Regions from separate parts of the Homo sapiens genome. Here region 1 is reported to be linked to region 2. Evidence: microRNA targets listed by miRTarBase, many of them from high-throughput screens and not tested one by one. Region 2 holds a microRNA gene; the other region holds the end of a gene's coding sequence.
Evidence for each region. The annotated mature microRNA hsa-miR-517a-3p reads AUCGUGCAUCCCUUUAGAGUGU and lies in region 2 at 1,214-1,235, opposite strand. An mRNA with a match to its seed (bases 2 to 7 or 8) in the 3' UTR can be bound and repressed. Matches are read on the target gene's strand: a 7mer-m8 pairs with bases 2 to 8, a 7mer-A1 pairs with bases 2 to 7 and ends in A, and an 8mer does both.

Region 1 (4,000 bases), not on the chromosome of region 2:
AAAGGGGATGTCAATGGAGAGAAAGAGCAGAAATTCTACACTTTCCTAAAGGTAAGTGAGCTGCCACCTGTGCTGGCTGGGGCTGCAGCCCCTCCTGGCTCCAGCCCACAGCGTCAGGGCCCATGCCACCTCCCCTGCTCCTGGGCTCTTGGGGAATTTCTTGGCACCTGACTATTGTTCCAACTAGAGGGCTCTGCAGACCCTGACTAGGGTCTCATTGGCCCATTTTACAGAAAGGCCCAGAAGGACCCAGAGTGAACATACTAAGGGTCTCACAATCTTCTAGAGCCACAGCTGGCGCTGGCAGTCTTCTAACTCCCAAACTGGGGCTCTTTTCTCAGGGCCAGGCTATTCCCCAGGAAGGCCTGGGAAGGAAGAGGGTCAGGGGGCCTCAAGCAAGGTTGACACTCCTCTTATCCCTGCTCTAGAACTCCTGTCCTCCCACCTCGGAGCTCCTGGGTACATCTGACCGCCTCTTCTGGGAACCCATGAAGGTTCACGACATCCGCTGGAACTTTGAGAAGTTCCTGGTGGGGCCAGATGGTATACCCATCATGCGCTGGCACCACCGGACCACGGTCAGCAACGTCAAGATGGACATCCTGTCCTACATGAGGCGGCAGGCAGCCCTGGGGGTCAAGAGGAAGTAACTGAAGGCCGTCTCATCCCATGTCCACCATGTAGGGGAGGGACTTTGTTCAGGAAGAAATCCGTGTCTCCAACCACACTATCTACCCATCACAGACCCCTTTCCTATCACTCAAGGCCCCAGCCTGGCACAAATGGATGCATACAGTTCTGTGTACTGCCAGGCATGTGGGTGTGGGTGCATGTGGGTGTTTACACACATGCCTACAGGTATGCGTGATTGTGTGTGTGTGCATGGGTGTACAGCCACGTGTCTACCTATGTGTCTTTCTGGGAATGTGTACCATCTGTGTGCCTGCAGCTGTGTAGTGCTGGACAGTGACAACCCTTTCTCTCCAGTTCTCCACTCCAATGATAATAGTTCACTTACACCTAAACCCAAAGGAAAAACCAGCTCTAGGTCCAATTGTTCTGCTCTAACTGATACCTCAACCTTGGGGCCAGCATCTCCCACTGCCTCCAAATATTAGTAACTATGACTGACGTCCCCAGAAGTTTCTGGGTCTACCACACTCCCCAACCCCCCACTCCTACTTCCTGAAGGGCCCTCCCAAGGCTACATCCCCACCCCACAGTTCTCCCTGAGAGAGATCAACCTCCCTGAGATCAACCAAGGCAGATGTGACAGCAAGGGCCACGGACCCCATGGCAGGGGTGGCGTCTTCATGAGGGAGGGGCCCAAAGCCCTTGTGGGCGGACCTCCCCTGAGCCTGTCTGAGGGGCCAGCCCTTAGTGCATTCAGGCTAAGGCCCCTGGGCAGGGATGCCACCCCTGCTCCTTCGGAGGACGTGCCCTCACCCCTCACTGGTCCACTGGCTTGAGACTCACCCCGTCTGCCCAGTAAAAGCCTTTCTGCAGCAGCTGAGCCTACTGTGTGTGGTGCTTCTTCAATGGTGGCCGCCCCCGCCTGGGTGGGAAGTGAGGAGGAGAAGGTGGGGCAGGGTAAAGGGGGGAGGATGAGAAAAGAACAAATATGACAACAAAAACTTTTTACAGTGGGTGCAAAGGTAATTGCGGTTTTCGCCATATGGCAAAATCCAAGGCTACCTCCCCACCCCACAATTCTCCCTGAGATCAGCCAAGGCAGACTGCAAGGGCCATGTAGCCCTATTAGGGGTGGCATCTTCATGAGGGAGGCCCCCCTGCCACAAAAAAGGGGCAAAAATTGCAATTACTTTTTCAACAACCTGATAGTTAGCTGCAGTGGCGCACTCCTTCAGCTACTTGGGAGACTGATGTGGGAGGCTCCCTTGAGCCCGGGAGTTTGAGGCTATAGTGTGCCGTGACTGAGTCTGTGAAGAGCCACTGCACTCCAGCCTGGGCAACACAGTCAGACTGTCTCTTAAAAAAAAAAAAAAAAAAAGAGAGAAATTAGACAATGCTTTGAGTCCCTGCTTTTTGGCTCCTACCTTGGCCCACTCTGCTTCTCTCACTCAGCATTTGGAGTTTATAAAACCAGTTCTGATCTACTCTCATTCCCTCCCACAGTTCTCCAAGTCAGCTGAGGTTAAGATGAGGTGTTCTGTTTGACGGATGAGGAAACTGAGGCTCACAGAAGGGCCACGCCTTGCCCCAGGTCTCCTGATGAGTGAGGGGCAGGACTGGAATTTAAACCCAAGTCCCCTGAGTCCTGGCCTAGGCTCCTTCCACTGCCCCGGTTGCCCTACCCTCAGGGAGGCCCTGATACGTCACCATTACTCAAGAGTAATGGTGACCATCTCAGGGAAAGGAAGAAAAGGGGAACAGAAGGAGGGACCCAGGAAAGCAGGGGGTTGACAGGGGAACATTAGCGCATAAATGAACATGAGTCAGAATGTTGATCTTCTTCAACTTGGATTTATGTCCATGATTCGTGCAAATAGCTATCCAGGGATGGACAGCCACCCTAATCTGGGCTTCTGGCACCACAGGCCTCCAGCTATGGGGTCCAGGGTCTGAACCTCAGGGCCTGGCAGCTTCAGGCTGGCGCCCCTCGGCGGACGTGGCTGGCATGGCCTTCTCCCATCTGTGATGGCTTCAGCAAGGCTACTGTGAGTGGTGGTGGAGAGGGCCCCAGAGCCAGAATATCCATCATTCTCTTCTGTTCTGGAGACAAACCCACACTTCCCACAGCTCCTCACAGAGGGGTAGGGGTGTGCGTGGGGCAGGTCCTGCTACAGAGCTTGAAGCAAAAATTAAACACACACACAAATTGGTCATGGCAACTAGAGGGCCTGAAACCACTTCCGGGAGGTTTTGAAGGAAGGGGGTCTTGGCTGCCTCCCACTCTTAGGATTGCTGCTCCTGGAGGCTTCTGCAACGGATGGTGGGTCAAAGCCGGATGAGGCCTCTCTCCACTCAGCAGCAGGGAAGGAGTTTTTCCCAGTCACTCCCAGCAGAGTACAAATGAAAGCCTTCTGGGTGGAGCCTCCCCAGTCCTGTAAACAGCTCAGTTCAGGGACTGGTGTACAAGCTGGCCACCCATCTCAGCCTCTCATCCAGCTGAGGCTCTGGCCACACCGTGCAAGTGGCTTCTAGTTTCTTGGCAATCTGAGATCAGCTGGCTCTGCAAGATGAAGGTGGAGCCAAATGACACAATCTGGTCTCACTGAGGCCCCTCACGGTCATTTTTTGGAGACTCTAAATAAACAAAAATTTTGAGGACTTCATGATTATGTGGTAGAGCGAGTTTCAAAGTCTCTTATGGAATGCAGTGCAGGAACAGTGAAAATAACAGCTAGGGTTACTGGGTGCTACCAAGTGCCAGGGCTAAGTACCTTAAGTACGCTGGTCATGTAATCTTCACCCAGCCCTATGAAGAAGGCAGGTTATTATCCCATTGTAAAAGAGGGAACTGGGACACTAAGAGGTTTTAAATGACTTGCTCATAGTTCCAGGTCCAGGAAATAGTGGGGCTAGGATTTGAACCCAATCTCAAATCCTGGAGCAGTTCTGGGGAGGGAGCCCCTCCCATTATACCAATCTCTACCACTCATCAAAGCAGCCTCCAAGGGGCTCCACTGAACTTGTAGGGTTCTTCAGGGAAAAACAGAAAATGACTGAGCAGCCCAATCCCTTCTTCCAATCACCAAATCCTCCAAACTGCAACCCCTCCAAGGTGTCCGTCCCATGGCCTCTACTCACACACCTGCAAAGGGACACTCGCCACCTCCCAGAGCTGGCTCCATTTCTGCACAACTGTGTCCCTTAGAAAGAAAGTTCCTCTTCATGTTGCGATGGACTTGGCCTCCCTGTCATTCCCACCCACTAGTTATAATTCTGTTCCCAGAAGTCCCACAGGCGAGGTGGTGCCTTGTGCCCCATGAGAGCTCTACAGGGAGCAATGGCAGTCGCTAAGGTCCCAATCTTTTCA
Region 2 (4,521 bases):
AGAAAACAAAAACAAAACAGAACCCCAACATCATCCAAGTCTGATAATAAGCATGCAAATATATTACCAACATCAGCATCAACTTCAACACTGCTTTTCCCAAACGGTAACACTCTAAAGGGAAGCACTTTGTTTTTTCTCAGACAACAAACAGAAAGTGCTTCCTCTAGAGGGTCACAGCATGGGATCTTCTTGCTCCAGCACTCTGGGTTTCTTGTTGGAATTTTCCTTGACCAGGTTAAAACGGATACAAAAATAAAAATGCATTTATTGGCCCTGTTTACATGTTTTATGGAATCCAGAACATAAACCCCTGAAAGGACCATCTCCAATTCCTTGCTTCAAAGGCTCAGCAGGTTAGCCTTGTTCATCAAGGGGCGATCGTCCTGAGTTTTGTCCCCAAAGAGAAAAAGGAATACCTACTACTCATACCTTACATTTAGCTAAGAGAATTGGGCTGATGTTGAAGAATATACATTGTCTCACACACAAACATCCTCCAGGATAGACCAGAGTCTAGGCTGACTCTAGAGGACCACGTGAGATTAGGGGCGGTGGCTCACGCCTGTAATCCCAGCACTTTAGGAGGCCAAGGCTGGTGGATCACCTGAGGTCGGGAGTTTGAGACCAGCCTGCCCAACATGGTGAAACCCAGTCTCTATTCAAAACACAAAAATTAGCTGGGTGGGGCAGTAGGCACCTGTAATCCCAGCTACCCAGGAGGCTGCGGCAGGAGAATCGCTTGAACCCAGGAGGTGGAGGTTGCAGTGAGCCTAAATTGCAACACTGCACTCCAGCCTGGACATCAAGAGTGAAACTCCATCTCAACAACAACAACAACAATAAAAATAATAACTAGCAGGACACGATGGCGGGCATCTCTATTCCCAACTATTCGGCAGGCTGAGGTGGGAGAATCGCCGGAAGCTGGGAGGCGGAGTTTCCGGTCAACAGGGATCCTGCCGCTGCACTCCAGCCTGGGAAACGGAATGAGAGCGCATCTCAAAAAATCAAAAATAAAAAGATCACCACTTGAGCCCAAGAGATCTCGGTTGGAGGTGCCACCCACTCCCGCCTGGGCAACAGGGAACCTGTCTTGGAAAAAAACAAACCAAAGAGAACCCCAACATCATGCAAGTCTGATGATAAGCACGCTCTGCAAATGTATTACCAAGATCAGCAGCATCTTCAACGTTGCTTTTCTCAAACAGTAACACTCTAAAGGGATGCACGATCTTTTCTTAGACAACAGACAGTGCTTCCATCTAGAGGGTCACAGCATGAGGTCTTCTTGCTCCAGTACTGTAGGGTTCTTTTTTTTGTTTTTGTTTTTGTTTCTTTTTGACGGAGTCTTGCTCTGTTGCCGAGGCTAGAGTGCAATGGCACGATCTCGGCTCACTGCAAGCTCCGCCTCCTGGGTTCAAGCCATTCTCAAGCCTTAGCCTCCCGGGTAGCTGGGACTACAGGCACCCACCACCACGCCTCGCTAATTTTTTGTATTTTTAAATAGAGATGGGGTTTCACCGTGTTAGCCAGGATGGTCTCGATCTCCTGACCTCGTGATCCACCCGCCTCGGCCTTTCAAAGTGGTGGGATTACAGGCGTGAGCCACAGCGCCCAGCTTTTTTTTTTTTTTTTTTTTTTCAGACGGAATCTCACTCTGTCATCCTGGCTGGATGCTGTGGCACAATCTCGGCTCACTGCAGCCTCTGCCTCCCGGGTTCAAGCAATTCTCCTGCCTCAGCCTCCTAAGTAGCTGGGATTACAGGTGCCCACCACCACACTGGGCTAATTTTTGTTGTTATTGTATTTTTAGTAGAGACGGATTTTCACCACGTTGGTCAGACTGGTCTCAAACTCCTGACCTGAGATGATCTACCTGCATCGGCCTCCCAAAGTGCTGGGATTACAGGCATGAGCCACCATGCCCGGCTTTATTTTGTATTTTTATTCATTTGTTTATTTTTTGAGACAGAATTTCCCTGTGTTGCCCAGGCTGACCATTTGAAGCCAAGAGATATATTGGACATGTCACTGCACTCCAGCATGAGCAACACAGAGCCTTAGAATAAAAAAGCAAAACCAAAACAGAACCCCACCATCGTCCAAGTGTGATAAGCATGCTCTGCAAATGTATTACCGAAATCAGCATCAACTTCAACGTTGCTTTTCTCAAACCGTAACCCACCAAAGAGAAGCACTTTCTTTTCTTTTAGACAACAGAAAGGGCTTCCCTTTGTAGACTCACAGCTTGAGATCTTCTTGCTCCGGCACTCTGGGTTTCTTGTTGAAATTTTCCTTGACCTGGTCAAAATGGACACAAAAATAAAGATGCATTTATTGGTCCTGTTTGCATATTTTCTGGAATCTAGAACATAAACCGATACAAAGACCATCTCCAGTTCCTTGCTTCAAACGTTCAGCAGGTTAGCCTTGTTCATCGAGGGACAACTGTCCTGGGTTTTGTCTTCAAAGAGAAAAAGCAACGCCTACTACATATACCTTATATTCTCAGGAGTTAGACACCAGCCTGGGAAACATGGTAAAACCTCATCTGTAAAAATACAAAAGTTAGCCAGGTATAGAGGTGCATGCCTGTAGACACTAATTCAGGAGGCTGAGGTGGGAGGTTGAGGTTGCCGGGAGCCGAGATCACACCACTGCACTCCAGCATAGGTGACAGGGCCAGATCTTGTCTCAAAAACAAACGAACGAACAAACAAAAAATGCACACACCAACAAAAAAATGCCCAAAGTGATATAAGAGTATTCTCAGGGTGTAAAAGAGTCTTTTGTGTGTACATGATATTATATATATAAGAATATATGAAGGCCAGCCGCGGTGGCTGTCTGCAATCCCAGTACTTTGGAAAGCCAAGGTGGGCAGATCACCTGAAGTCGGGAGTTTGAGACCAGCCTGACCAACATGGAGAAATCCCGTCTACTAAAATACAACAAATTAGCTAGCCCTGGAAGTGTATGCCTGTAATCCCAGCTACTCAGGAGGCTGAGGTAGGAGAGTCGCTTTAACCCAAGAGGTGGACATCGCAGGGAGCCCAGATCACACCATTGCACTTCAGCCTATGCGACAAGAGCAAAACTCAGTCGCAAAAACATAAAAAATAATAATAATAAAAGAAACTTCCATATATTGTATGCTCACAGGAAGAATACTTCCTACACACAAGTGCTAGCTTTGGCAGCACGCATGAAAAAATTGGAATGACAAAGATTACCATGGGCCCTGCGCAAAGGTGACACTCAAATTCATGATGATCTCATATTTATCTATTTTTATTTTTTAACGTTTAATGTTTATTTAATAGTTTTATTTATTTATTTAGAGACAGAGTTTCACTCGTTGCCCAGGCTGGAATACAATGGCACAATCTCGGCTCACCACAACCTCCGCCCCCTGGGGTTCAAGTGATTCTCTTGCCTCAACCTCCCGAGCAGCTGGGATTACAGGCATGCGCCACCATGCCCGGCTAATTTTGTATTTTTAGTAGAGATGGGGTTTCTACGTGTTGGTTAGGCTGGTCTTGAACTCCCGACCTCAGGTGATCCGCCACCTCGGCCTCCCAAAGTTCTGGGATTACAGGCATGAGTCACTGTGCTCGGCCTATTTATTTAATTTTTGAAACAGAATCTCACTCTGTCACCCAGGATGGAGTACAATGGTGTGATTTCGTCTCACTGCAATCTCCTTTTCCCAGGTTCAAGAGATTCTCTTGCCGTGGCCTCCCAAGTAGCTGAGATTACAGGTGTCCACCACTGTTCCCAGCCATTTTTCCTAATTTTAGTATAGACGAGGTTTTGCCTTGTTTGCCCAGCTAGTCTTGGACTCCTGACCTGAGGAGATCCGCCTGTCCTGGCCTCTCAAAGTGCTGGGATTACAGGAGTGGACCACCGTGTCTGGCCTATTTTTTATGTTTTTGAGATGGAGTCTCACTCTTTTTGCCGAGGCTTGAGTGCAGTGGCGTGATCTCAGCTCATTGAAAGATCAGCCTTCCAGCTTCAAGCGACTCTCCTGCCTCAGCCTCCAGAGTAGCTGGGATTACAAGCATATACCACCACCATGCTGGGCTAATTTTGTATTTTTAGTAGAGATGGGGCTGCACCATGTTGGCCAGGCTGGAATCAAATTCCCGACCTCAGGTGATCCTCCTGTCTCAGCCTCCCAAAGTGCTGGAATTACAGGCGTGGGCCACTGTACTCTGCCTGGTGCCATTATTAAAACTAGGAAAAAAGAAAGATGCCCACACCTAAACAGCAAATCATTTGTTGTTCAAGTATGTCTCAAATGCAGTCTTCATCTAAAATACTAATTTGACTGGCGGCTAGGTGTGAACCAAAGAACGGTCCTTTCTTTCCTCTTGCCTGTGCATGGTTAATATTCACATGTAGTCCCAGCTACTAAGGACTGGGGAGAGGTGGAGGCAAAAGGACCTAAGCCCATTTTAGCCTGGGCAGCATAGTGAGACCCCTGTCTCGTTGCACATATGACCTGGTCGTGCAGCC

Region 1: the mRNA of TNIP1 is a reported target of hsa-miR-517a-3p. Seed matches in the 3' UTR shown: 8mer at 2,498-2,505.

Annotation. Positions count from the first base shown.
Region 1 is chr5:151,027,481-151,031,480 of GRCh38, forward strand. It overlaps TNIP1 (TNFAIP3 interacting protein 1), which reads right to left. Exons shown (of 18, transcript NM_006058.5): 18 at 2,465-3,267. The coding sequence ends at 3,233. It overlaps GPX3 (glutathione peroxidase 3), which reads left to right. Exons shown (of 5, transcript NM_002084.5): 4 at 1-51; 5 at 429-1,508. The coding sequence ends at 650. Among named protein-coding and RNA genes, the nearest start is that of GPX3, 8.9 kb to the left of the region's middle.
Region 2 is chr19:53,717,832-53,722,352 of GRCh38, reverse strand. It overlaps MIR517B (microRNA 517b), which reads right to left and starts at 1,277; the gene lies at 1,211-1,277. MIR520D (microRNA 520d) reads right to left here and starts at 2,257; the gene lies at 2,171-2,257. MIR520G (microRNA 520g) reads right to left here and starts at 187; the gene lies at 98-187. It also overlaps the pseudogene RNU6-803P.